Regions from separate parts of the Homo sapiens genome. Here all the other regions are reported to be linked to region 2. The links are microRNA targets in miRTarBase. Many come from high-throughput screens and were not tested one by one. Region 2 holds a microRNA gene; each other region holds the end of a gene's coding sequence.
What was found. The annotated mature microRNA hsa-miR-20a-5p reads UAAAGUGCUUAUAGUGCAGGUAG and lies in region 2 at 1,862-1,884, shown strand. An mRNA with a match to its seed (bases 2 to 7 or 8) in the 3' UTR can be bound and repressed. Matches are read on the target gene's strand: a 7mer-m8 pairs with bases 2 to 8, a 7mer-A1 pairs with bases 2 to 7 and ends in A, and an 8mer does both.

Region 1: the mRNA of LYPD6 is a reported target of hsa-miR-20a-5p. Seed matches in the 3' UTR shown: 8mer at 2,283-2,290.
Region 3: miRTarBase lists YTHDC1 as a target of hsa-miR-20a-5p. Seed matches in the 3' UTR shown: 7mer-A1 at 1,916-1,922, 8mer at 2,438-2,445 and 7mer-m8 at 2,810-2,816.
Region 4: the mRNA of VPS50 is a reported target of hsa-miR-20a-5p. Seed matches in the 3' UTR shown: 7mer-m8 at 4,434-4,440, 7mer-m8 at 3,386-3,392 and 7mer-A1 at 2,342-2,348.
Region 5: miRTarBase lists TLCD3A as a target of hsa-miR-20a-5p. Seed matches in the 3' UTR shown: 7mer-m8 at 510-516.
Region 6: the mRNA of CHAF1A is a reported target of hsa-miR-20a-5p. Seed matches in the 3' UTR shown: 7mer-m8 at 1,084-1,090.

The regions. Positions count from the first base shown.
Region 1 is chr2:149,469,906-149,474,980 of GRCh38, reverse strand. LYPD6 (LY6/PLAUR domain containing 6) reads right to left here. Exons shown (of 5, transcript NM_194317.5): 5 at 843-4,298. The coding sequence ends at 4,131. Among named protein-coding and RNA genes, the nearest start is that of MMADHC-DT, 110 kb to the left of the region's middle.
Region 2 is chr13:91,349,211-91,354,285 of GRCh38, forward strand. MIR20A (microRNA 20a) reads left to right here and starts at 1,855; the gene lies at 1,855-1,925. It overlaps MIR17HG (miR-17-92a-1 cluster host gene), which reads left to right. Exons shown (of 3, transcript NR_197388.1): 2 at 488-560; 3 at 946-5,075. It overlaps MIR17 (microRNA 17), which reads left to right and starts at 1,395; the gene lies at 1,395-1,478. MIR18A (microRNA 18a) reads left to right here and starts at 1,541; the gene lies at 1,541-1,611. It also overlaps MIR19A, MIR19B1 and MIR92A1. RefSeq lists enhancers at 1-62, 63-610.
Region 3 is chr4:68,310,044-68,315,118 of GRCh38, reverse strand. YTHDC1 (YTH N6-methyladenosine RNA binding protein C1) reads left to right here. Exons shown (of 17, transcript NM_001031732.4): 17 at 796-4,732. The coding sequence ends at 1,020. Among named protein-coding and RNA genes, the nearest start is that of YTHDC1, 38 kb to the left of the region's middle.
Region 4 is chr7:93,358,155-93,363,229 of GRCh38, reverse strand. VPS50 (VPS50 subunit of EARP/GARPII complex) reads right to left here. Exons shown (of 28, transcript NM_017667.4): 28 at 2,107-4,913. The coding sequence ends at 4,794. Among named protein-coding and RNA genes, the nearest start is that of MIR653, 120 kb to the left of the region's middle.
Region 5 is chr17:741,238-746,307 of GRCh38, forward strand. TLCD3A (TLC domain containing 3A) reads left to right here. Exons shown (of 5, transcript NM_024792.3): 5 at 64-1,731. The coding sequence ends at 333. It overlaps GEMIN4 (gem nuclear organelle associated protein 4), which reads right to left. Exons shown (of 2, transcript NM_015721.3): 2 at 3,184-5,070. The coding sequence ends at 3,629. Among named protein-coding and RNA genes, the nearest start is that of GEMIN4, 8.5 kb to the right of the region's middle.
Region 6 is chr19:4,442,026-4,447,100 of GRCh38, forward strand. CHAF1A (chromatin assembly factor 1 subunit A) reads left to right here. Exons shown (of 15, transcript NM_005483.3): 14 at 220-316; 15 at 900-1,372. The coding sequence ends at 1,000. It overlaps UBXN6 (UBX domain protein 6), which reads right to left. Exons shown (of 11, transcript NM_025241.3): 7 at 4,811-4,895; 8 at 4,475-4,694; 9 at 4,258-4,388; 10 at 4,024-4,172; 11 at 2,981-3,598. The coding sequence ends at 3,473. It overlaps MIR4746 (microRNA 4746), which reads left to right and starts at 3,953; the gene lies at 3,953-4,023. RefSeq lists silencers at 1,947-2,241, 2,351-2,519.

The DNA.
Region 1 (5,075 bases), not on the chromosome of region 2:
CCTGGCCAACATGGTGAAACCCCGTCTCTACTAAAAACACAAAAATTAGCTGGGCGTGGTGGCAGACACCTGTAATCCCAGCTACCTGGGAGGCTGAGGCAGGAGAATTGCTTGCATCCAGGAGGCAGAAGTTGCAGTAAGTGTGAGATCATGCCATTGTACTGCAGCCTGGCGACAAGAGTGAGACTCTGTCTCAAACAAACAAACAAACAAAAAACCCACATTAAGTAAACATGTAAGTCTGTATCTTCAAAATCAAATTTTCTAAAAGCACAGTCCACCTGCAATACCACTTACATTAAAGACAGAACTATCCACGGAGATCAGCAATAAGAGCTATCTTCATGTAAGTACCACACTTTAAGGAGCATCAGTGACCAACTGTGTCACTGATTCAGACCAAGAGAAAACATATAAGTTTGTGGAAAAGATTTCCCTGGAAATTTCAAAACATAGGTAATTAAATAACCAGAGATTGGGTGCAGTGGCTCACACCTATAATCCCAGAACTTTGGGAGGCTGAGGTAGGAGGATTGCTTGAGCCTCAGAGTTTGAGGCTAGGCTGGGCAACATAGTTGGATCCTGTCTCTGCAAGACATTTCATTAAAACCTAGCCAGGTGTGGTGGCACATGCCTATACTGTAGTCCCAGCTACTCGGGAGGCTGAGGCAGGAGGATATCACTTGAGCCCAGGAGTTTGAGGCTCCAGTGAGCCATGATGGTGACACTGCATTCCAGCCTGGGCAACAGAGCAAGACCCTGCTGTCTCAAAAAAACGAAACAAAAAAAAAGAGGAGGAGAAGAATAATCAGGAATCACAAACAAACTGACATTTTTCAAGCTTGCTTTCAATGTCTATCACTTTACTAAGAAAAATATAATAAATTCATTGTATAGATAAAAATGACATGTACACTATTCCAATATCTGTTTCCTGTTGAAGAAACCATCAAGAGAAAATCTTTTCTGGTTCATCATCATTAACACAACCCCCAAAATAGAATACGATTTTAAAATAGTTAATAGGGTGGTATATATATATACATACACATACACACATAATTTTTATATTTCCTGATTTAACAAAGACATGCTCTTGGGAAGCTGTAGACCTTATTGAAAAGTCTGGTAGCCTTTCCTTCTTTTATTTTCTGCAGTACTTAAACAGCCTGTATGAATCATTTGGCATGGGTGAATTGTCTTGTATCTTCTCATGCATGTATTCTTGTCTACACAACTAGAAAGCAAGCCTCTGGAAGGAAGTTCCCTGTGGTGCTAAGCCCAGTGCCTTGTACATAACCTGGGTGCATTAATCATTGATTGACATGTGCATTTGCAGGGAGGAGCCTGGTAAGATACACTCAAAACCTTTATTCATTGATTTACAAACTGTACAATATTTACAAAGTTTAGGCATTAATCCCATATTGACATGAATGCTGTGGAGAGTCTAAAAATAAATATGTGGCACATAGCTTAATATACACATCATGGCTCTTTACACTTAAGCCATTACCAATATTGAGATGTAATGGAGAATTTAATGTGGTAGAAAAGTCAGAGTGGCTGACCAGTCCCGGACCTTCCATGTGAATGACTCTTCCTTGGCTCCTTGAGGCTGGGGATAGTGAGCAAATAACTTTCTTTCAAGAGAATTAAACACTGCCATTCTGACAGGCACATGGGACACATGCAGCAACATCTATGCAGAGTCTGCAAGCACTCCCTGGGTGGTGGTTGAATCTGCACCACTGTGGACCTGATCCCTCTACACCAGCCAGGGAGGCTTTGGTGTGGTCACTTTCTTGTTTCTTATTCAATCACATGCAGTACTTGGAAGATGTCAGTGGAGTGTAATCATGCACAAAAATGGTACTTGTAGGTATGTACAACATCAAACTTTCATTGTCTTATAGCATCTTTAGATGCAACATCAACTATCTCCTCTTTTAGCAAGAGGGATGAATGAGGAAGCCAAACCCCTACTCCCCAAAGAAAAAACATCACCTGGGGACACATGCAAATAGCATCCTGCAACAGCAGGGTGAGATAAACTCCACATGATAAGATGGATGAATTCCTATGAAGTCAGGCCTGAAAGTCTTCCTAGGGGGATAATCCCACCTTTCTTTCCTCTTCAATCCCACATCATCCCACATAACCTAAATCTGAAGGAAACAGCTTCACAACATTGCGTTTGAGCTTTGGTACCTTCATTTGGGAAGTGTAAATGCTAGTAACATTCTTTATAGGATTCTTGCAGGGATTAATCCTAACTTATGTAAAGTGCTTAGCATAGTGCCTGGCACATACGAGGTGCTTAATAAATGTCTTGCTTTCTCTCCCTCTACTTTCCCACCCCAATTAAAAGCAACATACTGATAAGCCTAACAAACTCTGAATTAAGGCCATTTGATGCAATTTAGATTATTCTGTATCAGAGTTACTGCTGTCAGTTCATATTTAGTCCCTGAGGGAGTCTCATTTTATGAGCCAGAGACATTTTTCTATGGAGGGCAGATGGACCCTGACAACACTGTCCTCTTTATTAGCCATGGTTCTACCAAGTTTCACAAAAACACATCTGAAAACCCTGCACACAAACTTAGACCAGTGATGGTCACCACCTGAATAATTCCAGGACACCATCACTGAGGAAACCATGGAAAAATCCTTGAGACAAACATATTGCTCTTGCCTACATGTTAACTTTTTTCAACACTGGTGCAAGTATTATAGATAACTTTCAATAAACATATATTAAAAGCTCTACCACTGTTGAAAAATATGTATTCTAATTTGATCACTTTGTTCAGAATAATGAATTTTTTAGAATATATTTTAGTTTCTAGTTATGCCTTACAAAAATAAATACTGTTTAAATTATTTACAAGGAAGAAGAAAAATTGTAACTTGGGGTACAAAAAATACAAGAAGGATGACAAAAATTTTACCATCTACTTCAAAAGCAATATCTAAAAGAAAGAAAAACTTCCCATTGAGTCTCCTTGTTAGTCTTGCAATCACCTCACTGGTCTACTTTCTCCTCATCATCGCATATTATGCCTTGCTTCCCCATCATTCGAAAGACAATTTAATGCAGAATCTTCTCCATAAAGTCACTGGGGATTTGGAAGTGGGAGCTCTTTGGCAGTATGAACTGCAGATGGAGTAAGAAGCTGGCTGAGCCACTTAGTCGGCCCTCAGAATGAACTAGGACTAATCTCCACACATTTTTCCTTTCATTCTGAAATCCTCTGTCTAGATTATCTATGGCTGAATAGAACCCCATATCTGGGGAAAACAACTCCATCCTGGTTTGGGGCTCTGGACACAATTGACTCAGGTGGAATCTAGGATCTCATGAAGCATAATTAGGTGCCAAGTCAAGGAGAAGGCTGATCTCACCAATTATATGAAGGGATAACAGCCACTTTATGGACAGTGGCTCCATTAAGTTGAGGAAAATCCTCCTCCAGGCACCCCCACAAATATAACAAACTTTTATGATTGCCTTTTTGTCTTCTGCACAGAACAGAGGAAATGTGATTCCCAGCACTGGGAGAAGAATGTTGGGAAAATTAATTGAACAAATGGCTGGAATTGTTGGAATTACTACTCTTCCAGGGACTCAGTCAGAATTTCCAAGGAAATAGTCCATTCAGTTTGGAGTCAATGTTTTAAAATTCTAAAGCTACAAATGAACTCATGATTATATTTAAACCAATGGTTACTTTTCTCCTGAAAAGCCCACATCTATACATGCCCCTATAACATACTCCTAATATCTTACAGTCTCAGGACCTACTGCATCTCATGCATGTATTCTTCCAAATTAAGAACCCCAGATCTCGATAAATGCAGAACTACTTCTTGGAATGAAAACAAACGTTTATGGTATGGAACTTGGGCTGTACTGACAGAAGGCTTTGATGAGTCTCGGTTAGACTCAAAATGGCTACAATGAAGCAACATTTATTCCTCATGGTAAGTGGCAATGCTTGGCTGTGATGACCTCCAAGAGTGTTGTGTCTCACATGTGTAATTACTGTCAGGCCAATGACTCATGCAGGTCTGTGGACCATCGAGATCCCCATGGATCGCTATTAACACATGGAGCCACTGAGCCACTATAACATGAGCCCTAACCACAACCACAAGCAGGACACTATCACTGACATACAGCGTGGGTGCCCATTTGTCTGATTTATAGGTGACGTCGTGGCAAATGTGGCATCAGTTTCATTTCGGGGCAGTGGCAAGTTACAGATATTTCCTTCACAACAAGAAGTGCAGACCTGAAAGAAAGGAAGAAAAAAAGATAATGAGAAGCCAGCATGTCTTGGAAGGAGGCAGGGTTTTTGAAGGCACTGTCGCCCACATGGCAAGATGCAAGTAAAAATTACCTAATCTATAAAGGAGATGCCAACTCTACGTTCAGGAAGGCTGGGGATAATATTTCTTCTAGAAGCAATCTGGTCAACATGAAAACTCCCCAGGCCAAACTTCAAGAGAGCTAGGTTTTGTTTTTGACACCCTCCACCCATACGATTCTTACAAAGGTGTATAGCCTTCCTGGGCCTCAGTTCTTTCGCCCTTAAAATGGGAATAAAGAAACTCGTCCGTGTTTTTCCATGAGGCTCTTTCTGACTACTTGAGGAAGAGAGGGTAAGCCTTCGTTTGCCAAGTTTTCAAGTGAGAGTCAAGTGGCAACAACCCGGGTGGTTTAAACTTGAGTACTGACTTTCACAGAACTGTTTGCATAAGTGTCTCCATTCTCATTGGGTGAGTTAATGTTTGAAGGGTTTTCATTCATGCAGTTACTCCTGCTTTACACCACCTTACTCGTGGATCATTAGAAAGAAATAAACCCACAGAGTTAGTGACAAAAACTTTCTTGGGGCATGGCTACACAAAGTACAGACCAGCAGCTCCAACATCAGCTGGGAGTTTGTTACAAGTGCAGAATCTCAAACCTTGCCCCAGACAAAGAATTAGGACTACATTTTAACAAGATTCCCAGGTGATTCCTAGTCATAGGATGGTTATTAATAACATTCTATACAGTCATTTTC
Region 2 (5,075 bases):
AAAGGGAAAAGGAACTGAAAAAGGCAGGCTCGTCGTTGCAATATCACCAAAAGAGAAAATTAACGGCATGCCATCAGGACCACAGCAGTTGGAGAAACAACTCTTTATCCCGGCTTGCAGCCACGAGGTCTTGATTGGGGGAGGGGTGGTGAAGAATAGTCTGTGGGCTGCTTTTTTTTTTTCCTTTTACTGGAGCTGTACAGTGGAGTCGGTGATTGCTGCTGATCATAATCAAGTATTTTAGGAGCTTATTTAGACATGTATCTGATAGCTAAGGATTTTTCAACTTTATTCTCTTACGTATTTTTCAACTGTAAATTATTGGGCTTTTAAATCCTGCTAGTATTGCTCGACTCTTACTCTCACAAATGGATGGAATTAATTGCTGTTAGGAGGTTGGAAAATAGCAAATATAGATTTGGACGGTGGTAGTAATTTTGAGCAAATAATGTTTTATCTTTTTTTTCCTTATTTTTCCCTATTCCAGTCATACACGTGGACCTAACTGCACCAGTAGCTTTTCTGAGAATACTTGCTGAAAAGGAAGTTTTCTGGAATGGGTAAGTGTATTCTGATTTTCTTGAACTTTTCTTAAAAACAAATTTTTCTTGCTATTAAAGTTGAATAAATAGGATTGGTTTCTTAGAGAGTAAAAGTAGGTGTTTCTTTCTTTAGACAATGTACCTTTTCTGAAAAACTAACTCATTAAGTACGGATTTGCTAATTTTAAGGTAGTAAAATTACAGTGTAAATATTCCTGTACATTTTTGGAAACTGGCTTATGCAGTTTACGAAATATAATTTTAGACCCTCTTTTAAGTTGGGTGATAAAGTAGATATAACCTGAGATGATAGATTTAAACAGGATATTTACGTTCTGCTACAATTGACTGATAACACTTGAAGTGTAGTCTGAACAGTAATTTTGTTAATCATTTCAACAAGTATTTGCTAAGTGGAAGCCAGAAGAGGAGGAAAATGTTTTGCCACGTGGATGTGAAGATTTCCTCTAAAAGGTACACATGGACTAAATTGCCTTTAAATGTTCCAAAATTAGTTCTCATTTATTTGCAGTCTCATTTTGTTTTGTTTTTTTTCTCTATGTGTCAATCCATTTGGGAGAGGCCAGCCATTGGAAGAGCCACCACTTCCAGTGCTAGTTGGATGGTTGGTTATGATTGCCTTCTGTAAAGAATTCTTAAGGCATAAATACGTGTCTAAATGGACCTCATATCTTTGAGATAATTAAACTAATTTTTTCTTCCCCATTAGGGATTATGCTGAATTTGTATGGTTTATAGTTGTTAGAGTTTGAGGTGTTAATTCTAATTATCTATTTCAAATTTAGCAGGAAAAAAGAGAACATCACCTTGTAAAACTGAAGATTGTGACCAGTCAGAATAATGTCAAAGTGCTTACAGTGCAGGTAGTGATATGTGCATCTACTGCAGTGAAGGCACTTGTAGCATTATGGTGACAGCTGCCTCGGGAAGCCAAGTTGGGCTTTAAAGTGCAGGGCCTGCTGATGTTGAGTGCTTTTTGTTCTAAGGTGCATCTAGTGCAGATAGTGAAGTAGATTAGCATCTACTGCCCTAAGTGCTCCTTCTGGCATAAGAAGTTATGTATTCATCCAATAATTCAAGCCAAGCAAGTATATAGGTGTTTTAATAGTTTTTGTTTGCAGTCCTCTGTTAGTTTTGCATAGTTGCACTACAAGAAGAATGTAGTTGTGCAAATCTATGCAAAACTGATGGTGGCCTGCTATTTCCTTCAAATGAATGATTTTTACTAATTTTGTGTACTTTTATTGTGTCGATGTAGAATCTGCCTGGTCTATCTGATGTGACAGCTTCTGTAGCACTAAAGTGCTTATAGTGCAGGTAGTGTTTAGTTATCTACTGCATTATGAGCACTTAAAGTACTGCTAGCTGTAGAACTCCAGCTTCGGCCTGTCGCCCAATCAAACTGTCCTGTTACTGAACACTGTTCTATGGTTAGTTTTGCAGGTTTGCATCCAGCTGTGTGATATTCTGCTGTGCAAATCCATGCAAAACTGACTGTGGTAGTGAAAAGTCTGTAGAAAAGTAAGGGAAACTCAAACCCCTTTCTACACAGGTTGGGATCGGTTGCAATGCTGTGTTTCTGTATGGTATTGCACTTGTCCCGGCCTGTTGAGTTTGGTGGGGATTGTGACCAGAAGATTTTGAAAATTAAATATTACTGAAGATTTCGACTTCCACTGTTAAATGTACAAGATACATGAAATATTAAAGAAAATGTGTAACTTTTTGTGTAAATACATCTTGTCTTGTTTTCATTCAAAAACATTTCACTTTTGGGGTTGCGTGTCAGATTTGGCAGTATAAATTCTGGCTATATTTTTTGTTGTTAGATTTATTTGGCTGTTAAGTATTGCGATATGACTAAACATACTGTATACCTGATGATCATCTGTAAAGTTAGAGTATATCTTTTTGCTTTCTTTGGAGTTAGTGTTATTCCAGGATATTTTACTTAATCTAAAAGTTAATTTATGTTGCTCATATATTACTCAAGTATTTAAATTTAGAGAGAATGCCGCTCTGTTTAAAGCAATGTGTAAAGATGAGTTTTTTTAAGCATGGAATTTAGGGTTGGGGTACAATTTGTTTCTATTAAGCAAGTACCAGTTTACCAATACATGAGTAACTGAAGTGTAACTGTTAAATGCTTGTATACTAGTTTTTCTTTCTGATTGTCAGTGATTTATAAGCTATAAATGACCAAGGTCCTCAGACTGCTTTTAGCATCTGCAACTTAAAAAAATGGGAGTTAGAAAAAGAACAAATGCTAAATAGAGTAACAGTTAAATGTATGTGTACACTCTTCCCAAATGCCAAGAGTGCAGCGGTGGGGTGAGATTCAGATATTCATTTATTTCTAAGTCTGTAGTTAACATTTATGTTCCCTACTCCCTACGTAAGCCAGACTTTGGCAACAGTGATAGTTGATTCCAGGCTTATTTGACTTAAAGTCACTGAAGTGGAAACTAAGAAGTGGCAGTTAGTGTTTTACCCAGCATTTCTGCCTTCTCTCTTTTCTTCATGTGTTTTTGTCTCTAGCCTATGTGTATTTGTGTAGAATAATGTGGGATACCTGAATAATAGATTTAAAAGGACCAAGTGGTAAAATTGGGCCCAAGCTGAAGTACAGGCAAACTTGATGTTTGAAAGATAAGTTTTGAGAAATGTCATTGTATTTTGGAGTAAAAGAGGCTATCTTAGTAATAAGAAATAAACTTCCATAACACTAGGTTAGACCACCCAATAAATCTAGAAATCAGCTTTTAAAAATATTGTCTGAAGTCTAACAAAAGTTTTCACCTCTAATGTGTTCTTTAAGAAATTTAAGGAACTTAGCCTTGGATTCCTGAATAGAAAGGTAAGAATTCTATCATTCTGGAGTTGATGAAAACATAAATTTTCAGGATGTGAAATGAACAGTGATTTATAAAATGGAAATCAAATTGTACATTAGCAGAGTTCTTAAGCTTTTTGAATTGAAGGAGACCTAATAATTGTGTCTTTTTGGTTATTTAGTGACAAACGTGGCTTTCAAACTATGCTTAAAAAGTTCCGGCTGGACACGGTGGCTCACACCTATAATCCTAGCACTTGGGGAGGCTGAGGCAGACGGATTACCTGAGGTCAGGAGTTCGAGACCAACCTGGCCGACATGGTGAAACGCTGTCTCTACTAAAAATATAAAAAATTAGCCGGGTGCAGTGGCGTGCACCTGTAATCCCAGCTACTCTGGAGGCTGAGGCAGGAGAATCACCTGAACCTGGGAGGTGGAGGTTTCAGTGAGCTGAGATCCTGCCACTGCACTCCAGCCTGGGCGCAAGACCAAGACTTAAACGCAAAAAAAAAAAAAAAAAAAAAAAAAAAGTTTCATAATACAGCATGGTCTGGTAGTTTGCAAAATGGTGTGCTTTTGGGGAGATACACTAGCAATTTTTTTAAAAACTGGAACAGTGTGATAGGAAGCCTGCTGGATGATTTCTTAAATATTCTAAAATGTAAGTCAAATATGTTTTAATAACAAAGACTTAAATGGCTTTTCTCCCTAGAGACTGAAACTAGTATTCATTGTGTTCAGAACTTAATTGGGCTTGAACTGAGATTTAAATCTAATAAACAAGTTAATAAATGTGTATGTTTTGTTGTGGGTTTGGTAGTGATCTGTGGTTCTATAGGGTTTAATAGGAATTGCTTTTGATTTGTTTCTGGCTTTAGAATGTGAGGCAAATTTTACATTCTTGGTTCTATTAAGATTTTCTTAGGCATGCTAACATGCCAACAAAAAGCCATGTAAGTATTGTATAAAAAGATTCACATTGTTAATTTAGCCATTTTGAAATTCAGATGAGTGAGCAAGTTGATAATGGCCTCATCTCTGACCTGAGAAAAAACAACTTTGACCCTTGTTCTTAAAATGCTTTAACCTTGAAGTTGCTTGAGACTTAAGAGGTCATGTTGCTTTAGGTTTAATAAATAGCCTTAACTATTTGGAGGGGAAAAAATGGGTCAACTTTTTTTTTTTTTTTTGGCGTTTGCATGTACAACTTTCTATTTTTAGCCTATATTTGGAAAGAAAGCACTTAACATTTTAGGAATTCTTTTTAAAGCTGCTTGCAAAGTGTTGGTGATTTTACTGAAAACTTTTGAGATCTTCATTTTACAGGCAGACCTGTCTAACTACAAGCCAGACTTGGGTTTTCTCCTGTAGTTTGAAGACACACTGACTCCTGACAAAATGCAGCCTGCAACTTCCTGGAGAACAACTCAGTGTCACATTAAAGTTTATTATGTATTTAATGATACACTGTTTAATTGACAGTTTTGCATAGTTTGTCTAACTTTAGAGAATTAAGAGCCTCTCAACTGAGCAGTAAAGGTAAGGAGAGCTCAATCTGCACAGAGCCAGTTTTTAGTGTTTGATGGAAATAAGATCATCATGCCCACTTGAGACTTCAGATTATTCTTTAGCTTAGTGGTTGTATGAGTTACATCTTATTAAAGTCGAAATTAATGTAG
Region 3 (5,075 bases), not on the chromosome of region 2:
ACATGGCTTTTAAAATAGGAAGTCTGAGATTTTTTTGTTTTCCTCAACTATATCCTTTTTAACAAGTTCTATTTTATGGATCTTTATGTAGTGATTTTTTGGTTAGTATACATATTCTCTACTTACATAATCACATATATAAAAGGTAATGTGGGACTGTGTTTTCAAATCTTATTTCAGCTAAGTTTTGAGAGAAGACCAAAATCAGTAAGGTAAGCTGAGAACTAAGAGTAGAAAGTTTAAACTAGAGCAGGGGCCAAGTTTAGGAGCAGCCACAACTTTTCTTGCACATCAACTTAGTTGTAACAATTTAGTTTGAAAGAAAATCTGGAACATAATACTCAGTTTGTAAAATTGAAGTTGGTAGAATTGGAGGAAAAATGTAGAGCTAGCCTGTGCCAGAAAAACATTGATGACATTTAGCATAATTGGCAGTATATATGGATAATAGTTGAAGGTCATCACTAGTTAATATCTTTGGCCTAAATCTTACTGAAGGGATCAGATGGAAAAGTCATTAAAGTTAAGTGGAAAACTGCATAAAGAGATTTGAATAATCTGTTGTAGATGTCTAATGAGGCATCATCCTTTTTCTAAACCATGTCAGCATATTACCTTCTGTGAATTAATTTATTATTGCATTTCTTTGGATTGTTCTCTCCGCCGATTATAATACAGAGACTTTTCTTTTTTTATATTTTAAAATTGTTTATATAAATTTTTTTTTCAAATCAGGGATCCACTTAACACTATTTGCCTTTTTGACATACCTAACACATTTCTTTCCTTTTCTAGCATGATTATGATATGAGGGTGGATGATTTCCTTCGTCGCACACAAGCTGTTGTCAGTGGCCGGAGAAGTAGACCCCGTGAAAGAGACCGGGAACGAGAGCGAGACCGCCCTAGAGATAACAGACGAGACAGAGAGCGAGATAGAGGACGTGATAGAGAAAGAGAAAGAGAGCGATTATGTGATCGAGACAGAGACCGAGGGGAGAGAGGTCGATATAGAAGATAATGGGCTTTTGGAAGCACTGATTGTTTAAAGATACAAAAAATCTTGTATTTTTTTTTTGTGTGTGTTTACAAGTAGTAAATTTATTTTCAGCTGTCTGCCTATGAAGTTCATTGTGTAGAAGGATTTATTATGACCCCCTTTGTTCCAAGCATGCAGTATCATAAGAACTGGAAAAACTCAAATCCGCCAAAAATCCACAGCTGACAGTTGAATTGACACTTTTATTGGGGCAGAATGGAACAGTCCAAGAATGTAGATACTGATTCTTTCTCCATAAATGTTCTTATAGTGTGTTCATCCTAGAGTTATTTTTTTGTTTGTTTTTTTCCTTTTTGGATCTTGATTGATAACTGCCATGATATTTTGCTTTGATGTGTTTCTACATGTAGTTGCACACGGTTCAGTAAAAATAATGCTGCTATCGAGTATGCAAATATTGAAGTATGATGGTTTGACTGTATGGCAGTGTTGTAGCAGCCTCTTGTTTTTTTCCCCATTGCCTCTTTTTTTAAAAAACTTATAAAGTCACTTTTTATTTTTCCTCAGTCTTCAATGACGAGAGCAATATTAAGAAGACATTGCTATCTAATTTTTAATCTTTTTAAATGAAAAATTCCTATGTTCAGTAGCGTGGTTGATGCTATTGTTTAGCCTTCCCCTCCAAATTGTATACATTGGCTTGGAATGTTCACAACTTGCGTGCGTGGCAGCGGAAGACGATTCCCATATTCTACATTGCTACTGTTTTGTATAAAATAAATTGGTAAAGATTGACGGTTATCTTTTGTATCTTTTTCTTATCCAATTGCAGGTTTGTTTTATTATGCAATAATGGACATAAAAGCATGCTTTTTGTTCAGGAATTTTAGGAACCCCATTTGCTTTTTTTGAGGCACACTTTAGCAGAAATGATTGACCTAGGCCTGTTGCATTAAAAGCTTACTTCTATTTCTAACATAAGATACACAGAGTTATGTTAATAATTTGGTTAAGTATTTATACACCTGATAACATTTTGAGTCTACTCTGATCACAGAATCGTTTATTTAGGTTTTCTATTTGTTGTTTTAGTCTTCTGTAAGTGAACGACTTTGTACATGCTTTCTACTTTACTTCATAAATGGACTTTTAACCCTCTTGTATTAGTTCTGTATTTTAAGTTAACTGTCCAGTTCTCCCAGTGGTAACCAACTATAACATAGAAATAGAGCCGCTCAAGAAAACAGTTTATGAAATAATTTTTTTGAATTTTTTCTTGAGTTACACCTGGAGTTTTGGCCTTTGGAATTTGGCCTTTATAAACATTAGGAATATTTGAATGTTTGATTTTTTTATAGTATCAACAGTTGTACTGTGTACCAGATCACATAGTACAGTTTTACATTTAATCTATATTGGCCTGAAAAGAACAACACAGGCACTTTACTCTTAAAGGATATAATAAACTATAGTTATACTGCATTCATATTCATACCAGCATGTAGTATCTTTCCCTGCATTCACAGAAGTTTTATTTACAATGACAAAACTAAAGCCTGAGGATTTGTTTTAAATCTGCATTGTGGTAGAGAGGAAAAAGTACTTTTAAGGAAACCTGGGTTCTAGTTTTGTCATTGTCTTTAATTAAACCGGTTAGTGATACATGGTAAGTCACTTCATTGGCATTTTGTGTATTCATCAGTAAGCTAGACAAGATGATAGCTACAGTTTAAGAATTTCTGTAACCATTATACAAAACTGGTAGGTAATATTAAAGGTATTTTCCTGAAATAATAGGAATAAATACTGAGCACTTTGTATGCAATAGAGACTTTGTGCTTTTATATACAGACTCATTTAAATGGGCTCAGAGAGGCTAGTAAACTTGCCCAAGATTAGAAAGGTAGTAATTGATGGGCCAAGATTTTACCCATGTTTTTATTTGGTGTTTCTAAACCACCTCATCACTTTTGAAAAAACAGTATATAAATTAATAAATGTTTTGGAGATGGAGTCTGTCGCCCAGGTGGAGGGCAGTGGCATGATCTTGGCTCACTGCAACCTCCTGCCTCAGCCTCCCGAATGGCTGGGACTACAGGCACCCACCACCACACCCCGCTAATTTTTGTAATTTTAGTAGAGATGGGGTTCCAACATGTTGGCCAGGCTGGTCTCAAACTCGACCTCAAGTGACCTCACCTGCCTCAGCCTCCTAAAGTGTTGGGATTACAGGCGTGAGCCACTGCACCTGGCCTGAGATTTTTAAACATTAACATTTCCTTCAGGCTTAAGCAGAGGATTTTTCTAAAGTGCCATCCAATTAGATGTTAAGTTATGCTTTGTATGTTGAGCTTAGTATTGAGTCGATCTATTTTAAAAAGCCAACATTAAGTTTTTACCAAGTATCTGGCACTATTCTAAACAATTCTGTTGGCTCACATAATCATCACTGTTTTCTCCTTTCCTAATTTTTAAAATAAACTTACCGGAACATTGTATAAAAAATGCAAGATTTTTTTCTGTACAGAAGAGTCAGTATATAAAAATCAGTATGTTTTATTTAATATTCGTACACATGACAGCTTTTGTCACTGTGAGAAGACATGGTTTCTTTCGTGTACTCCACTGTGCTGTGATTCTAACAATCTACATTAGTATGATGTGTTCAGATGAAAAACAGAAAATTCAGTCATTCCGAGTTTAGAAATCCGGTCAGGGATTTTATTGGCTGGAGTAATAGTTCAAAGGAGTGAAAATTCAAGCATGTAATTTTTGGATTTGATTTCCTCCATAATGATTTCCTCCATAATGGCTTTTTTTCAAGCATGGTCTAATTTTTCAGAAAATGGCCATTATCTCCAAGCTTCCATTGTCCATGTAGTTTCAGTGGCAGGAGAGAGACTATTTTCCTCCCAGTGTCCATGTCAGTTCCCCAAAAGGACTGAATAGCCATGTTGGTTTTGGAGCCAGCCGTAATCCAATCTGTATTTCCAAGGAAATGGGGTTCTTTGTCTCCCAGCATTGGGAAGCAAGAGAGGCACATGTTATGGTCACCTCTGTGAGGATTACATCAGGAAGGACAGTCTCCAAAAGACATGGACAGAGGAAATTTAGCAGATGTCCATTAAATCAGGATCTCATACAAGTTATAACACCTGAATGTTTGACTTTTCAGAGTATTTTGCCATCACAGGTGTGGCATCTTGCCCTTGGATATATCTACATTCTGCTGTAGAATGTCGTGGTCTTTCTGAGGGTCACATACATCCTGTCTTGTCATAATGTTAACCATTAAGAGTCCTCAGGGGCATGGAATTGAAGAAGGAACTGTTGCCAGCAGTTAACTGACCAAGCTAGAGTTCCCTGACCCAACGTAAGGGTGACTGTGACACACATGGATAATTTTAGCTTCATGTTTAAGATTTTGTTATTTGGGTAGGAAACATTCCAAATGCAGTTTGAAACACATATTAAAATTGAGGCACACAGGAAAGAACTGGCTCAAGTTTAGTCCCCAAGTTCCTTATAGTAGGAATAGGAATCCTTAGAGTATAAGCAATCCATGCATAGTATTCTGTTATCTATCATGTAGATCATTTAATCTCTAATTTTTTGGGGTGGGGATTCTCTTGTTTCTAAATCTTACACTTTCAGTTTCTTCTGTGTCTTAAATATAGATTATTGACTATTGTCTTAAATACTAATAAATACATTAAATGTATCTTAAATACTACTATGTCTTAAACACAGACTATTGACTATTAAATATTTTCATTTGTAACCTTCATACTGGAGATTTGAAAGACAGTCAAAAATAATAGCTCTGAAAAGCTAAGGAATATACAATGTAAAAAAATGTAAGACTGGGTGCAGTGGCTCACGCCTGTAATCCCAACACTTTGGGAGGCCAAGATGGGTGGATCACCTGAGGTCAGGCATTCAAGACCATCCTGGCCAACATAGTGACACCCCTCCTCTACTAAAAACACAAAAATTAGTGGGGCATGGTGGCGCATGCCTGTAATCCCAGGTACTCAAGAGGCTGAGGCAGGAGAATCGCCTGAACCCGGGAGGCA
Region 4 (5,075 bases), not on the chromosome of region 2:
CCAGAGTGTATCTTCCGACAAGAGTGATGGCTTCCCAGTTAAAGGAGTTACAATGTCCAAAGGTCCTGGTAGGTCCCTAGGTGGCAAGATGTTCTTATATTTGCTCTAGAAAACTGTCCCTCCAGCACAGTATCCTGGTCCTGTCTCACCTTTCATGGAAACAATGGCAAGGGGATGGGGGAGTAGTGCCTTTTTAAATTTTTTTACTTTCCTATGCCTGTAAGTTTTCTGCCTCCTAAAGAAATCTTGGCTTTACGTTATATTCTGATGACTCCCACATTGACATCTATAGCTCTGACCTCTTCTCTGAACTCCAGACTTGCATGCCGCTACCCTCTCCTACACATCCAATAATTTATCTCCAAGTATCTCAAACTTCCCTGTCCAAAACTGTTTTCTTGATCTTGTTCACAAACCCAGTCTTCCCAAAGACTTCTACTTCCTCCAGAAAGTCTTTAAGCACACTCTTTCCTCAAATACCAATCATTTTGTTTCTACCTTCAACATATGTCCAGCGTCTGACCACCCCTCACCATATCCCGCAATGCTACTGCAATCCTAGCCTCGCATGGTTTACCAAATTAGTTTCCTAGCTTGTTTCCTTGCTTTGCTTTTTGTCCCTCTCTAGCTCTTTCTCAAATACACAGAGTGGTTTTGGTAAACCCTAAGTCACAAATCAGGTCATCACTTGGTTCACAGCCCCTCAAATGCTTCCATCTGAAGGTGAAATCCAAAGTCCTTCCCCGTATGTGTCCCCTCCTGCCACATCCTCTCTGCTTTTACTTTCTTCTGCTTACTATGCCATCCACACTGCCCTCCTTGCTGTTCTCTGACAGCAGCCTCCACCCTGGGGCCTTTGCACTTGACATTCTCTCAGCCTGCTACACTCACTCAGACATCTGCATGGCAAGCCTCTTCCCTTCCTCTCAAGGGAGGCCTTCTGCCACCATCCTTGTTTAAGTTATACTACCATTGTGACCACCACCACTCCCTATTGATTTTTCTCCACAACATCTCTCCTTGGGAAGGATAAGTTTCATGGAAAGGATAGCATCTTGCTTGGGTGCTTAAAGGTGGGATTGTGATTAGGAAAGCAGGGATAACAGAAGTAAGGTAAGGCAGATAGCAGGTAGCCAGCAAAAATGGTCTCCCAGTGGTTACCTGATGGTGTCACTACACTTTAGCGTAGGCTCTAGTACTGAGTGGTGTCAAAATGGACACCCTGACTACAAAGTCCTTTCTTTTTGGGCAAAGATTAGCATGCTTGCTATTTGGTGTAGCTGGATTAAAATGCCCACATTGTGGAAATGCCTTTTCTTTAAAGCAGAAATCCTTTTGGTACCTAGGACTGGGAAGGAACAGAGTAAAACAAAAACTACTGATGAAGAAAATCCCTTTCCTGGATGGAAAGGCTTAGCTCAGTGTGAAAAAATACCTACAGGGCAAATTTGGAAATCCTCACCAGGGCCAGGTCTTCTCAGTCTTGGGATCAAAAAGTGATGTCTAAATTAACTTATAAAAATGGTTATCAAAAACACCAAAAAGAGTTCTATATTAATCATATCAATAAAGTACTAAAATTCCAGAGGGATCCTTCTAAGTGAACGAGAATATTTAGCTGTGGTTTTGTTTTCATATTGAAAAAATGATCTAAGTATACTTAGCAATATTCAAAAAGGATATGTCAATCAAGAAAAGCACATCAAAGCAAATGAATTATTTTTCTCCATTCATTTTGAAACAGCTAACAGTTCTCTTGTATAAATCTAACAGTTTTGTCCTTGTGAGAGCTGTGCTGCTTAAACTTTTTCATAGCCTTTACAAAGCTGTGGATGATAGGAATTGAGCAAATATTTTCCACAATAAGAAAAAATCTGTAGAAAGCTGCACCAGTCTTAACATTTACAAAGATTATACCAGACTATTAATAATTCTCATCATTAATCATTGTCAGAAGCTAAATATCATTTTGTTAACCACTAATCCGAATCAAAATTATTCCAAAAAGAAATATATATATAATATATATATATGTATATATATGGAAATCCCCCCCACCCTGTACTTCTATGTGCTTTGAGCACAACTTGTATTCATCAATTCATCTTCAGATCTAGTTTTTTATTACAAAAGACAACTATGCTTACAAGGTGAATTGAATTACAAGCCTTTTACTACTTTTTGGTGAGTTAAGAAAAAGCTATTTAATCTAACAAAGTTTCACTTTAGCACTCAGCTAAATAGAAATTTCGAAATTTTATTTAAAGATATGATAAAATACCATATGGCCCTGGTTTCAAGAGAAATTCATTTAATAAGTTGTGTAAATGAGTTTATTAGTTAAAGTGAACTTACAAAATCTCTGTTGGTTTTATAAACCAAAGCAAACTAGTTCATTTGAATTGCTATGTGCCCCCCTAGCATTTTTAAATGCAAGACAATGTATTTGTAGAAATGATCATTCTTTCTCAGGGAATGCTAATTTACCATGCTCCCATGGTAAATTCTACAGGAAACTTTCATGGAAAATGTCAAAGTTAAGGAAAGTTTAGACTCAAAAATAATAAATTTTTGGTAATGATAGTTTTTGGAACACGTATAATTCCATTTACATTCTCAGCTTTTCAATTGTATTTATCTGAAAATTAGTTTCATAAAATGTTACATGGTTATAACTCAATATTACTGTATAAAGTATTTGAGAAATGTCTGGTAACTCTCTTGTGATTAGGTAACTTCATGACTCAAACCTCCTGTTACTGTTTTGATGCTAGCTAGCACTTATTAAGCTACCTTTTAATGAAAAAAAAAAAAAAAAAAAACCTTTTTCAAAAAGCATTAAAAAGATCCACCATTTCATTTTGAAGATGGAGAAAGCAAAGTAAGGGTAGGTTAAAAGGTCTGTCAGATTGCATGGTCGAGTCTCTAACAAGATAAGTAATTCTTTTGTATCAATTCCTATTACCTTGGAAAACACTGGGCTCTACCAGGCAGGTGATTCCTGTTCATATTATCTAGGGCCAACTAAAGTAGAAATTAAAGGAAACCAACTATAAAATCCATGTAGAAGAGAAAAATAAGCAGCTCTTCATCAACTGCAAATTTTAAAAGATTGATTAGCTCTTTATGTGCCCAGCTAAATATGCCATTTAAACTCAAGGACCAAGCTTATCTCATGTTTGTTTTCTTCAAGTGGCTGCATATAAATAATGGCTACAGGCAGAATCTACTTCACAAGTATATAATCTAGCCACAACCAAATCATAATGGCACCAAACTCATACCTTTTTACAAGAGGAAAGTTTTAAATTGACAGTAAATGAACTCCGACATGAGAGGATGAAAAGAAAACACTCAGCATACAGACACACACAAACATATTCTGAAAGTGCTTCACATTACACTGTGCATTTACAGACATCGCAGGGACTGATGGACACAGAGTAGCAATTGTTTCCTTATCACCTCCATGCTTGATCACATGCCATTCTGTGCCATCCATTTTATCACCTTAGGTCCCAGAAGACTCATAAGACCCAAGGCCTGTTTCTCACATGATTCCTTAGGATTCTGTGAGCTGTTGATGTTACAGGTCATGCATGGCAATCATTGGACCAATGCCACACAAGCTTAGATGTCCTCCACTCTCCAGTCAGAAAGAACACACACAAAATTCCTTATCAGACAGTTGGCAAGAGTACATGGAAAATGGATTTTTATGTCACATACATTAGGAGAAGATCCCTGGCTTCAGGGCAAAGTTTAGAGGAACAGCACATACTTACTGAAGACTAAGTGGATTCCAGAGTTCATCATTGGCTAGACTGATACTATTTTACATTTGTGTTATAAAAGGTGGATATTTAAGAAGAGTGAACATATGACCGTACATTTATGAGTGACTAGCAGACAACTGTTTCCTGAGTCAGTCAACCTGGGTTTTACTGTCCTAAGACAAAATCTGAATTTAAAGAGACCAAAACTTTCAACAAAAAAACCACATATTTTTATAAAGAAAGATAAAAGAAAGTCTCATAATCATGATTCTGTATGCTACTCAGGCATTGAAAAGGTACCCTCAATGAAATTACTTTTCACCATTGGTTTCAGGATATAAAACAATTAAAATTAGAACACACTAAAAGCTGCACTATAGTTCATGACATCTGCATGCCACACAAAAAATCAAAATGTAGTCTCACATAGGCTGATCATACTAGAGTATATTTATTAAATTTCACCATTATGATCACTTTGTTATAACTAAATTAACCCTGACATAAACTTTGACATTTTAAAAACAGAGAACATACTGATTTTTCAACTATTTTACTTACATGTGTTTTTTAATTCTCATGCAGTGCTCATAATTAGGAGATACTACATATTCACCCTCACATTATGCTTATTAAGAACCAAGCTCAGAGGGTAGAAAAGTGCCAACTTCATTTTCCATAAACTTCCCATACATATATTAAGCCACTGTTCTTCTAATTATATACTTATGGTACATTCTTCTGTAAAATGTATAACTGTAGTCACATAACCATTGTTATGACAAGGCGGCAACATCATTTCAGATTACAACAAATGAGACCAAAAGTTGAAGAGACCACAGCATATAAAAGTCATGAGAACACCACACACATTTCAATATTTTCCACTTTCCAGTCAAAAAAACATGCACAAAGTTTTCTTAGCAGATAGTTGTCAGAAGTGCATAAAAAAACTGGCTTTCAGGTCATATATGTTGAGTGAGGATCAATGCCATTGAGGAAAGAGAGCTGTGTTCATTATCTTTTAGGTCTGTCTATATCATCTATAGCTGCTAGAAGTTTTTGTCTTGCTTTCTTATTGATATGGGATCCCAGGCAAACATTCACCAGATTGGTCAGCTGCTTCGTTGAATATTCCTGCTCAAAGAAGAAAGATCCAAATTTAGTACCCTAAAAGGAATGTATCTGATCAGTGCAACAAAAGAACAGGCGGATATTCAGGTGCAGTGGATAGTTACTGAGCATTATAAACCAGTGAAAAACAGTGGAAATTACAGTTGGGACATGGAAGGCAAATTG
Region 5 (5,070 bases), not on the chromosome of region 2:
CCGTCGCTCCCTGATGCCCAGCTTCTTGGTGACCTTACCTTTTTCCTTCCTCTTCTATTGCAGCTAAAGCAGCAGCACACCCTTCTGTACAAGGTGAATGGAATCCTCACGCTGGCCACCTTCCTTTCCTGCCGGATCCTTCTCTTCCCCTTCATGTACTGGTCCTATGGCCGCCAGCAGGGACTAAGCCTGCTCCAAGTACCCTTCAGCATCCCATTCTACTGCAACGTGGCCAATGCCTTCCTCGTAGCTCCTCAGATCTACTGGTTCTGTCTGCTGTGCAGGAAGGCAGTCCGGCTCTTTGACACTCCCCAAGCCAAAAAGGATGGCTAAATGCTCCTGGGAGTCAGGCGCAGCCTCACACCAGCTGCCTCCTCCACTCAGCATTCCATGGACCAAATTGTGCCCTGGGTAGCCTCAGACTTTGGGTATTGATAAGCCGATGGATTTGAGTTTTTCTAAAGAATATTCATATTACCTCCTTCTTCTAACTTGCCCTATTTGCAAAAGCACTTTTGTAGTAACAACTATTGGGTCCTGTCAGACCTCCACGGACAGCAAAGTGGTTTTAATGCAAGCCCAAGGATCCTTCTTAAGGTCTTATCTCAAGAGCTCTGGGAGGTGGAAGCATGGGGTGGGATCGGTGGACCAGGGTGGTAAGTGTCTGCACATCTGCCTGTCCCTGTATCAGCGGCTACCCACCTTCCAAACCACTCAGGACAGTACCCGTGGCACTGGGCCCGCAGAAGCAAGGGATGACTTGGTTCTTGGAAGTAATGTCGTCTTGTGACATTGGCCTGGGACAATCATTGTGGGTAGGTAGTTATTGATCGTTTACTAGATAACCCATTGGTTCTTTGCCTCATCCTCTCATCCATGGGTCAGAGTTGAATTCTTATGTCTATAGACTTCCAATCAGAAGTCTCACTGGTGGGGCTGGGGGTGGGGGCAGGCAGGAGGCATGGATGGGAACCTGAGTAGGTAGTGTGGCCAAGAGATCAGCACAACCTTTGCAGGCTGACTTGCTAAGTCTGACAGTGACAAACTTGTGAGCTTACTGCAGTCAGTCACAGAGGCTGTTCTTTTTCACACACCCCTTCATGCCCGGCTTTCCCCATATCCACATGCAGAGGGCGAGCTCATAAAACTACAGGGAAGCGTGAAATGATGGCTTTGGTAGCTGTTTACTGGGTAACCCCACTGTGACACTGTCCTTTTCATGTGATGTGGAAACCTACTTCTGTCCTCCAAACCATGAAATGTGTCATCTAGACTGCAGAGTACTTGAGTGCTTTGCCTCCCGATATGCCAGAGCTTGTGGTCCAAAGCCCATTCCTGTGTGTCCGTCCTGCCATTTAGCCACAGAAGGCTGCGGAGTGAGGCGGCAGCTAGCCTGGCCAGTGGCTGTCCCGTGGACCGACACCTGCGCCCCCTTCTGCAAGCAGGATTTTCTGGTGCCAACACTCATTCATCATTCCCGATCAACTAGGATGAATTTAAGACTGTGCTACCATGTGTTCTCAAGTGGTAGTTTAAAAAGTGGATTTTTAAAGTGCCTTTCAATTGTCTGTGAACGTCTAAAGGACTGATTTGTCTCATTTTGACTGTTGAGTCTTTAATGGGTGCCATTTAAAAAACAAAATGCTATTTTTTAATTGTCTTTTTTTTTTAACTATCAGTGTATCTTTAAAAGTCACCCTTACGGTGATTAAATTGCACTAACATTCCCAACTTATTCTCATTTGTGAAATACATCAATATCAGTGTCCTGTAAGAATCATCCTGTGACCTAGCTCGACTGGCTGCCGTGTGCTGTGGCTCAAGGTCTGTGTCCATGTAACTAGCAGAGGGGTGTGTGTGTGAATGCTTTCAGCCTCCAGAAAGGTCTAGCTCACACCTCACTCAAACCTATTTTTGTGGTTCATGGTCTCAGTAATACATTGAAGGTTCCCAGAGTTCAAGCGTAGTGGTCACACGTAACTTGAGACCGTTTCTTCTCTTCATAAGTGAATCTTACTAGGAATTGGGAGAGTGGAAGACCGATTATTGGTCAGGGAGCCAAGCCTACTTTACCTGAGGAGAACCTGAGTAATGCCCCATTGTGAAGGAGGGTGTGGATATGGAGGGAGTGATGGGACATATTTTTTCCCCCTTTCATCTCACACATTAAACATGTCCCCAGCCAATTTTCATAGTTTCCTCATACCTCAGACACCTTAAACTCATTTTTTTTTCTTTTTGTAGAGACAGGTTATCTCTGTTGCCCAGGCTGGTCTCAAACTCCTGGCCTCAAGTGATCCTCCTGCCTCAGCCTCCCAAAGCACTGGGATTATTACAGGTGTGAGCCACCATGCCTAGCCCACTCTCAATTTTTTTTTTTTTTGTTTTAGACAGGGTCTCACTCTGTCACCAAGGCTGGAGTGCAGTGGTCTGATCTCAGCTTACTGCAGCCTCTACCTCCCAGGATCAAGTGAGCCTCCTGCTTTAGAACCCTGAGTAGCTGGGACTACAGCTGTGTGTCACCACACCTAGCTAATTTTTGTGGTTTTTTTTTTGTAGAGACAGGGCTTCCATATGTTGGCTGGTCTCAAGTGATCCTCCCGCCTCGGCCTCCCAAAGTGCTGAGATTACAGGTGTGAGTCACCGCACCTGGCCCAAACTCATTTTTTATGTTCCTGCACACATCATTCCCTTATCCAAACCATTCATTCATCCAAATCTTGACAACCCCTCCTGAGGCAAAAGCTAACGTGACCCATCCATTCAGCACATCTCTGCTGGGTTTGCCAGGTCTCGTCTTCACAGTAGCCCCTTTGGGGGTGACTGAATAGATGGAGTTAAGACTGTATGGGAAGTGGGTGTGCTTATTGTCCCAGCTACTCAGGAGGCTGAGGTGGGAGGATCACTTGAGTCCAGGGGTTCAAGGCTAGTCTGAGCAACAAAGACTGTACACACTCCTCAATTCAGAGGGGACCCATTTTCTTGAGGTCACTAACCTAGCCCCTCGCCACTGAGTTTATCTTGGTCCTCCAATCCTCTCATTTTAGAATTGTGCAGGCCTCTCGGGCACAGCAGTCTCATGGCCAGAGGCAGAGCCAGGGCTGGACTGGATTCTTTTCCAAGCTGCTGTCCTTTCCAAGATACCTCAAGAAAAAAACATTAAAAGACGAAATAACTCTTGAAGGGGGTTATACGTACCATGTAATGCTTTTTCCACTCACATGGTTTCAACTTTGGGCTTATTTGCCAAAATCTAGGATGGAAAAGTCCAGTTATGAACATGTTCCTCCTGGCTGGATTTGATCTTGAAGACACTAAACCCAATTTCAGAGCATATTTAATCCTGGGCTATTGCTGAGGCCGACTTAGAAGAGACAAAGTGAGATGCGAAAGAGGAGAATTTTTATGATAGTTTGTACGTTACAAATACCCAAGAAACTATTTTCTTTACACCATTATTGCCATGACTTTTTGTGGACAGTTTCACATAACTGTAAAGTCCAGGCTGCTCGGGTCTGACCCCTACAGACCTGCCATGTTGAAGCCCAGCTTTTTCGCTCCCGCACAGGTAAGAAGCTGCTGATCTTCTGCAGACCCGCCATGTTGGGGCCCAGCTCCCCACGCCAAGTCAGAAGCTGCTCATCTTCTGCAACAGGGTTTGGCGCCGTTCTTCAGGGCCGATGCCCTCAGCAATGGACTTTAAGAAGCGCTGCTCGTGTGCCCTCTGGAGCAAGGAGCTGACAGAAGGGTTGGTCTTGCTCAAAGTCTCATAGCAGGTGAGGGTTTCCAAGGCTAAAACGTAGAGTGGCTCACAGACCTCCGGGTGGAGCATGGCCATGATGTGCAGAGCATGGCAGAACACCTGGGTGTAAACAAACAGGGCTTCCTGGGTCAGGTCCTGCTCTGGTCCTTGAACCCAAGGGCCAGCTGCCTGTATCGCCCTGACTGAGTCCAGGAGGCGGGTCAGACTGCCACAGAGGAGTTTGACCACGTGGTTCCAGCCTTCCAGAGGAAGCCAATCACGACAGCTATGGCTGCAGAGAAACTGGAAAGTCCTCAGGAAGAGGACGGAGAGTTGCAACTCCTGGGCAAAGGGCTTCAGGTTGAGCAGGGGAACAAACTGAATATATTCCAGGCTATAAGGGACATGGAGGAGCTGCTTCTCCAGCAGTCTCCTGGTCAGCTGGTGAAGGCGCTGCCACTCCTGAGGGCTGCACCAAGGCATGACTTGCACCAGGGCCACCAGAAAGCCTTTGCTGAACAGTCTGACCTCCTCAGGATTGCCCACGTCCACCACCAAGAGAGACAGCATCCTCTCCGAGATGCCGCTGGAGACGCAGCAGCACTCCATCCAGGCCAGGAGCCCCGTGCCAGCCCCGTACCCTGGGTGGGCCTGGGAGGTCCACTCGTCTTCTGAAAGCTTACAGATCTCAAAAAGTGTGGCTGGCACTTCACACTTGAAGTGCCCCTCGAAGAAGCTCTTCAGCCTCAGGCCCACAGTCCAGTCTAGCTGTTCTAACTTGCGGTGGAGCCAGGACAGGGACTTGATCCAGACATCCGGGGAGAAGGTCTCAGCATTGGCTGATACAATCTCACACAGGAGCTCCAGGATATGGATCGCTAGATCCTTCCTATCCAAAGAGAGGCACCGCTTCTCCTTGGGAAGCTGCCAGTATTTGCTGAAGCGGTCCAAGAGCTGGCACAAGCTGAAGAGGAGTGGAAACGGGGAGCAGGTCTGGAGCCAGTATTCCTCTCGGCACGCGTTTGCCTCTAGAGTCTGGATGAAGATCCTCAGACTGAGGTCTACCTCTTCAACATCTAACCTCAAGAAAGGCAGGACAAATTCCTTCAGCACCTCGTCTGGCTCAAGAAGAGCAGCCACTGGAATCCCTTGGGGTTTCACGGGACTCATCAGGCAGTTCAGGAGCTCTAAAAATTGCTTTTCTTCCTTGGGTGTAGAGAACTTCATCCAGACGGTTTCTTTGAGGCATGACACCATGAAAGTGGCAGATGAATTGGGACCCTGCTCTTCCACAAACCTAAGGGCAGGGAAGGCAGTGAGAATCTGGG
Region 6 (5,075 bases), not on the chromosome of region 2:
TTCATTTGAGGGAACCCCCAAGGTTCTCTGGTTGTGGCCTCTTGAATAAACCTCTCACATTTGGACAGTTTGTTACCAAATTGGGTTCTGGATGTTGGTTTCCTTCCGTGTTGGGGGTGGGAGGAAGGTGTCACACCTGTGGAGTTCCCCCCGCTACCGCACTGGCACCAGGGTGGCTGCTGCCTGCAGTGCTGATGGCCGTGTACCCTGTCTGTCCAGATTGGTGCTGAAGACATGGACGGCTTCCAGGCAGACACGGAGGAGGAGGAAGAGGAGGAGGGCGACTGTATGATCGTGGATGTCCCGGATGCTGCGGGTGAGAAGGGCTGTAGATAGCAGAACGCACTGGTGAGGTGGGCGCTGGAGGTAAACCTCAACAGAGAAGGGATGGGGCTGCCTAAGACTAGCTCCACTGTGAGCAGCCAGGAGGGCTTGCAGCTGGAAGTGGCTCCTGCCCTGCCACATCCTCGGGCGGGCTGGGCCGTGGGTGCTGACCATGCCAGGCATCGTTCTGGCCGCAGAGCCACAAGGGCCTATGCTGGGAGTCTCAGGTGGTTGTGACGTTAGATGGGGGTCAGGGAAGGCTGCACTGAGGCAGCAAGGGAGGGCCAGGTGGATTTCTGGAGCACTCGCCAAAGAGGAAGTACAGAGGCCCTGCAGCAGGCTGCGTGGGAGGAGTGTGCCCGGGTGGTGGGGGGCAGGCAGGGTCAACCTGAGAGCAGGTGAGCAGGTCACCTCTAGAAGAGGCACAACGCCCCAGCCTCTGCCTGTCCCCACTGTCAGGTGGAGGGTCCCGCCCTGGGGTTGTTGCAGGCCCCATGAGGCAGCAGGGTGGGGTCTTCCCCCAGGGAGCCCAGAGGGCCCAGCCAGCTCAAGACCCTCCCTCTCTTGCCCTGCAGAGGTCCAAGCCCCGTGTGGAGCCGCTTCCGGAGCTGGGGGTGGTGTGGGGGTGGACACCGGCAAGGCCACCCTGACCGCGAGCCCACTGGGTGCATCCTGAGAGCAGGGGTGACGTATGTAGAATGCTTAGGGTGTCCTCCCCACAGAGCAGATACTTGAACCGACTCAATTCCTGTGTAAAGAGCACTTTGTCCTGCTTCACGGACCTCCCCAAAGTGTGCAGAGTTCTATATAGGATGCTGGATTAGTTCCTTTGATATTTGTAAAAATTCCCCCAAGAGCCGCATATGAATCTGCCCTTTAATAAAGCATTATTGAGATTGCTGGCCTATTGGGGAAGCCTGCGGGCACAGGAGCAGGCGTGGAATCCAATACTTGTAAATGAATTGAAGCGTCAGGACCACCCGCCTGGCCACGTGCGCGGGCCCCTGGACCTAACGAGGCAGTGTATAAACTTATTCTCTAGCCCTGAGCTGCTCTGTCTGTCTTTTCCGAAAACATTGTGTTTCTCTGAGAGTGCACCTTGCCCATGGCCCGGCCCCATGTGGTGCCTGGTGTCTGGGGCCAGCCTTGTGCCCTGCAACAGCACCGTCCCATCTGTTTGTCACTAAGTCACCCTCATACCAGGCTGACCTGGGTCAAGGTGCGGGTTTTTCCGCACGTGCTTCTGTCCGGCGATCCCTCCTGCCCTGGGTTGGGGGGTTAGGAGAGGGTGTTCCCAGAGACCTGCTAGGGTCACCTCCCTGAACCCGGAGCTGCTGGGAGCCGAGTTTGGCTTCGAGTCTGAGGCTTTGTGAGAGCCCACCCCAGGTCAGGTGCATCTTTTGCGAGTGCTGGAGCTAGAAGGTGACCTCCTCCCCGCCCCAGGTTGAGTGGGCTTTATCCACACTGTCCGAGGGAGGACAGGCGACAGCCGCTGTGGTACTGAGCAGCTCAGAGCACACGCAGCCACGGGGAGGGTCACGCTCGCCAGTCCTGCTCTTCCCAGCCACACCCCACCTGAAGTCCTAAGCTTCCCTTCAGGGAACCCTATGTGGGAAAAGTGTCAGCTACCTCCATCCACCCAGTCAGGGACGGCAGGGCGCCCGGGCCAGGCCTTCCTGCTGGGAAGCAGGATTCAGCTGTGCCTGAAGCAGAGGCTGCCCCTGTGCCACACCTTTGATGAGCTTTACAGGGGCTCCCGACAACCCGGAATCAGGTCCTGGGGCCTGCAGGACGCAGGACTGGAGTGACAGCCTCCATTCTCAACAGGCCGGGTGCCCACACCAGCTGGGGCAGTGCCGGGGGCGAGGGAGGGACCAATGCAAGGTCAGGGGCACGAGCATAGGCCCCGGGCACCTCCCCCAGGTGCAGACCTGCATCCCCAAGTCAGCAGTGGGGCCGGGGCACACATGCCTTCCACACTGCAGGGCAGAGTCCCTGTGTCTCCTGGGGCTGCTGTACCACAAACCTGGTGGCTTAAAGCAAGTCACCATCTCACAGCTTGGGGGTCAGAGTGCACACATGCCCCGCCAGGCTAACATCAAGCTGTGGGCAGGACCAGGCCCTCCTGGAGAGTTTCCCAGTGCTCGGAGGCGCTGCATCCCTCAGCTCGGGGTCCCTTCCTCCACCTTCACAGCCATGCGCAGCCTCTTCCAGTCTCTCTCTGATTCACCCTCCTGCCACCTCTTGTGAGGACACTGGGTCCCGGACCACCCAGGATCATCTCCCAGCTCAAGACCTTTCATCATACCCAAGCCCCTCTTGCCAGGTGAAGTTGCGCATCTGCAGGTTCCAGGAATAGGATGTGGCCGTCTCAGGACACCCTGTCCCTCTGGCCACAGGGAAGCCAGGCCTGTGACAGCACTCGCCTCCCCTGCAGGGACTGGGCCTTTGTGGGCACAGCACAGCCTCCCCTAGCGCACGGGACTTCCTCCCCAGGTGGGTGGCTCATCGGGCACTTGTGGCCAGGTGCTGGCCTGAGAACAGGTATCCACATGGTCCCACCTTGACAGGGAGCCACACCCAGCCCCCAAGCCATCCGCTCTTCAGCAGGTGGGCCTGCCCTGTGTCCCACGGTTTCAACGGAGAACCAAGAAACTATATTCAAACAACCTGTTTATTTGGGCTTATGATTTACTAACTGCAGGTCTATGTGCAGGAAGGCCAGCATCCCCTCCTGCCGTTGTCACCCACATCCACAGAGCAGCCCTAGTGCCAGGTGCAGCCACTGCCACCCACGGCACACGGGAACAGGACCCATGCTGCAGGCCTGCTCTCCTGCCCAGGGAGATGCCACGTGTGTCTGTCCGGCAGCTTCATGACACAGTTACCAAGCAGCTAGGGAGGGCTTAGATTTGTTGGTGTCCCCAGGCCTCTCCCTCGGGGGCTTGGGCGCATCCCCACAGCCCCCAAGGGATGGGGGCTCTGCCACGGGGCCCAATTCCACAGCTCCACGGCTGGCGCCCCTCCCGTGCCCATGGGGCAGAGCCAAGTATTTCCAGAGGTGGCTTGGAGGCCCTGGGGTGGCGGGGAGAGGAACAGGGAGAGCATGAGACAGACCCACAGGGCTGAGGCCAACCCTGCTTTTATTTCACAAGAGCTTCTCGATGGCTGACAGGAGCTCGGGTTTCAGGATGGAGTCCGGCTCGGCCCCCGCGGCCTTGATGTCCTCCAGCACAGCCATGTCCCACGAGAAGGTCAGGAGGGCAGAGGGCACCTGCGGTAGGGGTAGGCCGTCACTCTGAGACCGAGAGTCGGCCCTTGCCGCGGCAGGGAACTCAGCGGGCAACCTGGGCGCGGGGATGCCCCGGCCTGGAAGCCATCTCAGCTGGTGGAGGCTGTGGCTCGCACCCAGGCCTCCTGCCCTCTCCCTCCGGGACTCCAGGACCTAAGCCTAAACCTACTGCACTAGCTAACGCACGTCACCGCTCCCATTTGATGGGGAAACTGAGGCGTGGAGTAGTTATGAACTTGCTCGAGGCCCTGCTGCCAGTAAGTGGGAAAGCAGGATTCAAACCCAGGGACCTGCCCAGGCCCCCTGCTCTGAGAACAAGGAGGCTCCCTCCTGGGGGTGTCTGTGCCGGTCCCAGGAGAACCTGCAGAGGCATCGGGTCAGCGGTGCTCCTGCGGGCCGACACTCACCAGCCCGCACTCGTTCAAGGCCAGGTTCTCGTCCTCGGACAGCTTCTGCCCTCCCGAGGCCAGCAGCTCAAAAGGCAGCCAGTCGCTCTGCAGGGCCTCCCGGACGAACCCGTACACCGCCCCCAGCCGCTCCCGAGCGTAGAAAGTGCCTGGGGAGTGGGGGAGTCAGAGCGGGTGGGGCCCAGGGCCCCCTACCAACCCGAGCCGCCCTCCACGGGCATCGTTGGTGCCCACCCTGCAGGAGGCAGCCATCGGGGAGGCGCACGCGCAGCAGCGTGTAGTTGTACTTGCGCAGCCCCCGCTGCTCCTCCTTCTCCCGCATGGCCTTGGTCCGCAGCACGCTCAGCCGCTCCACCGCCTCGGACCTGCACACGCGGGCCAGGTCACGAGGGCTGGCCGGGGTTCTTCCACCCCGCCCCGCCCCACTCTGCTCCGCGGACGTCAGGCCCACCTGAGCCTCTGCTCCCGCTTGATCTCCTCTGCTGTGAGGTTGAAGAAGTCCCCAGGCAGTTCGAACTGCGAGGCCAGGGGCGAGGGCTGGAAGACGCGGCGCTGCCTGTCCAGCTTGGCGCGCACGGGCTCCGCAGCCAGCAGCTGTTCCTTGTGCCTCTCCAGGCTCTGGGGCTGGGCCAAGGTGGTCTCGCTCAGCACGTAGAACTCCTCGGGGTCCTCTACAGCGTGGCAGGACATGGGTGTCACTGTGCAATGGAGAGACCCCCAAGCCGGGCCCTCCTGCCCCGAGGCCCCTCGTCCCCATTCCCTACTCAGCCAGGCCCTGTCCACTTACCCTGATCCTGGGCGGGAAGCAACACCTTCTGGAACCCAATGGCCTCAAAAAACTCGTGGGTCCCTTCCAGGCAGTTAATGCGCTCCTGGGGGTGGAGATGGGCGTCACTGGGGGCCCCTGGCTTCCTCCATGGCCTGGCCACACCCCACCCAGTCCAGGGGCCCGGCTCTCGCTATTGGGAGCAGCTGTCGACCCCTGGATGGGGCCCAGCCCTGGGGGTGCCTCAGTGCTGGATGCAAACCTGCTTTTCTACGGTGGGGGCTGT